Linked DNA regions of Homo sapiens: region 2 is linked to region 1. Evidence: fine-mapped QTL for protein levels in blood plasma. Region 1 holds a variant in brackets. A gene starts in the other region. All regions are shown on their forward strands.

The links. PIP is the posterior inclusion probability: the model's chance that the variant is causal. Protein levels are from antibody-based Olink assays in UK Biobank. Linkage for the fine-mapping came from a reference panel and not from the study's own genotypes, which makes the PIPs less certain.
Region 2: it holds the start of MEP1A, and the variant in region 1 is fine-mapped to the plasma level of the MEP1A protein (UK Biobank, PIP above 0.99).

Annotation. Positions count from the first base shown.
Region 1 is chr9:114,384,600-114,387,514 of GRCh38, forward strand. The region is part of intron 1 of AKNA (AT-hook transcription factor); the gene reads right to left. Among named protein-coding and RNA genes, the nearest start is that of AKNA, 1.9 kb to the right of the region's middle. RefSeq lists enhancers at 956-1,025, 1,046-1,095, 1,216-1,275, 2,046-2,195. The variant G/T (reference allele first, on the strand shown) is at 1,551.
Region 2 is chr6:46,791,795-46,794,709 of GRCh38, forward strand. MEP1A (meprin A subunit alpha) reads left to right here and starts at 1,595. Exons shown (of 14, transcript NM_005588.3): 1 at 1,595-1,673; 2 at 1,758-1,782; 3 at 1,872-1,922. The coding sequence starts at 1,605.

The sequences.
Region 1 (2,915 bases):
TTAATGAAAGTAAGTAGATTTTCTCTTCCTTATGATTTCCTTAATAACATTTTCTTTTCTCTGGCTTACTTTATTGTAAGAAAACAGTACATAATACATATAAGACAGAAAATATGCATTAACCAACTGTTTATGTTATCAGCAAAGCTTCCAGTCAATAGCAGGCTATTGATAAAGTTTTGGGGGAGTTAAAAGTTATAAGCAGATTTTTGACTGCATGAGGCACTCCTAACCCCTGTATTATTCAAGGATCAACTGTATTTTATTTTATTGAGACAGGGTCTCACTGTTACCCAGGCTGGAGTACAATGGCAATCAGAGCTCACTGTAGCCTTGACCACCTGGGCTCAAGCGATCCTCCCACCTCGGCCTCCTGAGTAGCTAAGACCACAGGTATGCGCCACCATGCCTGGCTAATTTTAAAAATTTTTTTTTGTCGAGATGGGGTTTTGCCACGTTGCCCAGGCTGGTTTTGAACTCCTTGTTTCAAATGATCCTCCTGCCTCGGCCTCCCTATGTGCTGGGATTACAAGCATGAGCCACCCACCCAGCTGGTCAACTATATTTTAAATAGAAGCTCTAATCCTTGCTTCTCATACCTTCTGCAGGGCCTGTACCCTTCTTGGAAATCCCTGCCAGGGATCTTAAGCTTCAGTGTGCTTAAGAATCCTCTAAGCGTGCAGTTTCCTGAAACAACCTGCAGAGAGCCTGACTCAGTGGCCCTGGGATAGGGCCCAGGAATCTGCATTTTAAACCAGGGCCTCAGGCAGGGCCTGCCCTTTGAAGTTCACTAGGCCTCCTGGCTCCTGCTGTTATGGCAGGTGGAGAAGAGGCTACAATTTAGCTGTTGCTTTTCTGATTCTGAAGCCTCTGCTGAGGAAGGGGCCGGGGGAGGTGTGCGGTTTTTTGACTTTTTAAAGGGCTTTTTTTCTAGCTCTGCCACAGAGCAGCCTGCCCAATCACAGAGCCCTCTGGGTGCACAAAGAGGAACATCCTGTCTTCTGGGATGACTCAGTCGTGGCAGAAATCTCACTGTAACCAGGGGAAGGTGCACGTCAGAGGCAGCTGCAGTGACTGACTAGAGTTTCGCACTTGCCCCCAGGCGCCTAAACCAGTGAGCCTTTCCTGAGCCAGGCCTCTGCCTTCCATGCGAGCCATGGCCCTCCTCACCACAAAGCCCCAGAACTGGCCAGTCAGCTAGTCAGTCAACAAACACACGTTAGTGCCAACTACCTGCCAACCTCAGGCTGGGACGATGCTGTGATAGAGAAGCAGGCTGGGCATCAGGAGACAGGTGCTAGTCCTGGCTGCTGTTACTCACTGTGTATAGCTGGGCTTGCATTTTCCTCACTGTAAAATAGAGAAAGTACCACCTGCTCTTGATATCGCAAGGGGATATCACCCTGCTAGGGTGGGTTGGGAGGCAGGGTATGGGACTCAAAGAGCTTTGAAGTCCCTGATTGACTCAGCTTCTAAGGGCAACAGCCTCAGAACTGTTAACCTCTCTCCTCCTCCCTGAGGTCACATTTCAAAGTACAAAGATACATACT[G/T]AGCACCCAGTGGGCGCAAATTAACTTTTTAAAAAAGCCCTATGACTTCCTACTATATACCAGGCGCTACGTAAGATGCAAAGAATATAGAAAAGAGTAAAAGTGTTCCAAGATTTTAAACGGTGGGGGGTAGTACAATACAGAAGTGTTACCAAAGGAAGCTTTAAGGTGGGCTTGAGAAACAATGAGGATTTGGGGGAGAAGACTGGGGAGGGCATTCCAGGCAGCGGGAACAGCACGGAGGCAAAGGCACGTAGGTCTGAAAGTATGGCCTGACCTTGAAGGAGAGCTATGGGCAGGTGTCCCTGCATGCCAGATAAAGGCAGAGTTGTTCCAGCCAGCCCTCGTTAGGGCAGCAGGGCTGCTCCTAAAAGGCAGTGAGTGGGGTTTGGTGAAGACTCCAGCAGTGTGAGCTGGGGAGGGCTATGGAGTTCAGGGTCCCCGCCATCCCTGGAGAAACTGGCCCCACAAGGAAGTAGCAGCCACTGCACCCTCCTTCTGCACATCTCCTTCTTACACCCAAGCCGCCACTGCCCCTGCTCTCTCAAGGGTCTAACAGACCCCTGAGGTGTCTATCTTCAGTTCCTGGGTGGGATGGACTCTTCTTCCCCACCACCCACACAGGGCTTCTCCGCCCGCTCAGTCATTCCACAGCCAGGGACCCTTCCCTTTATGGCTCAATCCCTCAGAACTGCCCAGACGCCCAGGCTCTCCTTTGCCAGCACAGCTACGCAGCCCGCACAGCCTCCCCGTGCCCTCTGCAGCCCCTTCCCATCCAGCCAGAGCTGTCCAGGGTGCCACCCTGCTTCTACCCCCACCCACACCCTGACACCTCCCAGATGAAGACACTGAGGCACAGAGACATGGCCTGCTCTCACAAGACCTCACAGCCAGGAAGCGCAGACAGAGGATTCAAAGCTGGGGTACCGCAACTCTGAAACCAAGGCTGTCAGATGTGTCAGGGAGATGGGGAAGGAAGACCACCCCCCAAATCAGTAACCAGACCTTCCAAAAAGGCTCAACCATACCCCCACCCACCTGCTGGCAGGGCACAGACTTGCTGTTCTCAAGGGGTTCCCACCAGCTGTGTGGACTCTAGTCCCACAAGGAAGCACCAGCCACTCCCTCTCTGTGTCCTCCCTGCCCCCAGCCCGCTCCAGCAGCAGAGGCCGAGGAGAAAGAGAAACGGTGCCCTGGCTGTTGCCAGCTCTGGTCTTGCCATCCTCAAGAGCTGAGCTGGGTCTGCTGGTCCTCGGACTGTCCTTGGCTCCTCTCCTTGCTCTTACGCAGCTGGCATAAGGGGCCACTCCTTCAATAGGGACCACCCCCCGGCGCCGTCGCTGCCTCCTGGCCTGCTGCCCATGC
Region 2 (2,915 bases), not on the chromosome of region 1:
ATATTCCATAATTTATCTTTTCTTTTAGTATAAACACATTTTCCCCATTCTTTACCATAACAAAAAAACTTCAATGAATATGCTATGTGGAATTTTGTGCACATATGTGTGAGTTCCTTTAGCATATAGACCTAGAAGTGAAGTTTCTATCTTATGAACTGTGCACATTTCAACTTCATTAGATAGCATCAAATTGATGTCCTACTAGATTTCCTATTTTCTTACCTTCTTGTTGACACTTGATATTGTCAGTCTTCTTAATTTATGCCAATCTTAGCTTGAGGTGGTATTTTACTGCTATTTGAACCTATAATTTTTCTGATTACTTACGAGGCTAAAAATCTTTTTACATATTTATTGGCCATCTGGGTCTTTTGTGAATTTGCTACTCATATTTTTTGTTCATTTTTTCCTTAGATAATCTCCTGTTCTTTTTATTGATTTGTAGAAATTCTTTACATATCCTGAATACTTATTCTTATTCAATTATATGCAGTATACATATCATCTCTCACCTGTGGCTTGTCTTTTAATCATGTTATGTTTTTGTCATAAAGAAGTTTAAATTTTGATACAGTCAAATGTATTATTCTTTTCCTCTGTAATTTCTATGTTTTTTTCATGTTTAAGCAATCTTTCTTGACCTAAAGGTTAAAAATATGTTCCTATATTTTCTTTTTTGAAGTTTATATTTTCATATTTAAATTTTTAATCTATCTAGAATTTATTTTTGTCAATGGTATCAGGTGTACATTTAATGTATTTCCTCATATGGAAATGCAATTATTCCCACATTATTATGAAAGAGACCCAAGTTTCCCTCTTGCCTTTTTGGTTCCTCTTATACATAAAAGCCCTGCATATGCTTGCATCTATTTGGATATTACCTATTCCAGTCTATAGATTCATTTTATCTTTATTTTTGGAACTATTACACTCTAATTACTGTAACTTTACCAAAGCTCCTGATATTCTTTTGAGGCAATTCTTTTCTCTTTATTCAGCCTTTTCAGAATTTTCTTATCTATTCTTCAATGTTTACTCTTTCATGCGAATTGAACCATTTGTCAGCTTGGCAAGTTCCACTGAAAACCCTGTTAGATTTTTTACTAGAATGACAATGAATTTATAGATTAATATTAAAACAATCTATTAATATTTCATACATATGTACATATAGAGAGAGAGTCAGGTATTTTTATGTCCTTCAATAATTGCTTTATAACATTTCCATAAAATTTGAATTTATATTTTATTAGAATTAAATAATAATAATTTTATAAATTATTTTTATTTTTATTGTTAAGGGGATCGTCTATCCTGTTTTATGATATGAATGGCTATGGCTGCCCTATAGGAATGTTATTAGTTCTTATATGCTCATTTCCGTATTAATTTTTCAAACTTTTCCCCAGTCTTTGGAGCTTAAGCATTTAAGGTAAACTTAGTGTTTGTCCTCGAAAGAGTCAATGATGTTATCTTTGACAACCTTTATTGGCACTACGGTACATATGGAAGGGTCAAAGTTTCTAATACGACCGTCAGGGTAAAGTCTAAACGGTATTTATGACAAGGTGTGTGCTAAAATCAGCTCACTTGCAGCAATGGCTTGGATTAGATCCACTTGCATTCTCTTTTTTACCTTGCTTTTTGCCCACATAGCAGCTGTACCGGTAAGTCGAGTCCTGCTTTTTGGATATTTAGAAATATTAATTCTAGTATACATTATCCATTTTCTGTATATTTATTTTTTTCAGATTAAGTATCTTCCTGAAGAAAATGGTAAGAATTAGTTCAAATGCACAGAGAGTGTTTTTGAACTTTTTTCCTTCGGCAAGACTAATAATAATTTTTTTTCTCACTTTTAACAGTACATGATGCAGATTTTGGTGAACAGAAGGATATTTCAGAAATCAATTTAGGTGAGTTCAATTTTTGTGTTATTAAAGTCTTGAAATTACTTGAAACCCAGTGGTGGGATTACTGAACACTTTCCTTCCTAATACTGTATTGTGATTCTCTGGGGGAGAAATATTTTTTGGTGCTTTGTGAGAAATTGCATTTTCTGAAAGATAAAAATGCGGAAAGAGAAGATAGTTAGACCAGACTTTCTAGGAGAGCTAGGAAGTCCTCAATGGATCTAGAAATATGTAACAAGTTTCTCTTTATAAAAATTTTATTTTTCCAATTTGTATTTGGAGGAAAAGGAAAGCAAATAGATAATTATTCCGATTGTTAAAGAAAAATATAAGAATAAGCCTCTGGTTATATTTAGTGGGGAAACAAAACCCAACCCCTCCACTGGCCCATCATATTCACTAACAACTCCTCGGTTGAGACTTAGGGGTGAGTGTAAAGCAATCTCCACTTAGACATCTCATTTACAAATATATTTCTTGAAGAAATTCATCAGTCTCATCCATTACTGAGAGGAGAGAGAAGCTGAGTCATCATCTCTGTTTTCTCTCTGTTGTCCTGCTTCTGAAATGAGAGAGAAGCCTCTGCATTCCCAGTGTCTTAGGTCAGGATTTGTGGAAGCAGAGCTATTCATGATAATAAGTACCTTCAGTTTACAAAAGCTTTTATATGCAATTGCATATTTATTTGTCCAGTCTTGTCGTGGAGTAAGTGCTGTTTTCATTTTTTTGGGAAGCGACAGGTGGCTTCTCATGGGTAGAGTGACTTGCTCAAGATCATAGGTAGCAGTGATGGGGCTTACTTCCAGATCTTGTAGCCCATACCTTAATAGCTCAGTGCTATCTGAAGGCTACAAAACTAACATACCAATAACTAAGGGTCAATTTTTCTGGCTTTGTCTCACTCACAGAGAAGCCAGTTAGTTGATATTTAATTGGAATAGCTGGAGAATGGCTGCATAGGCAGAGCAGAAATAGTTTAGGAAGGTAAATGGGTGA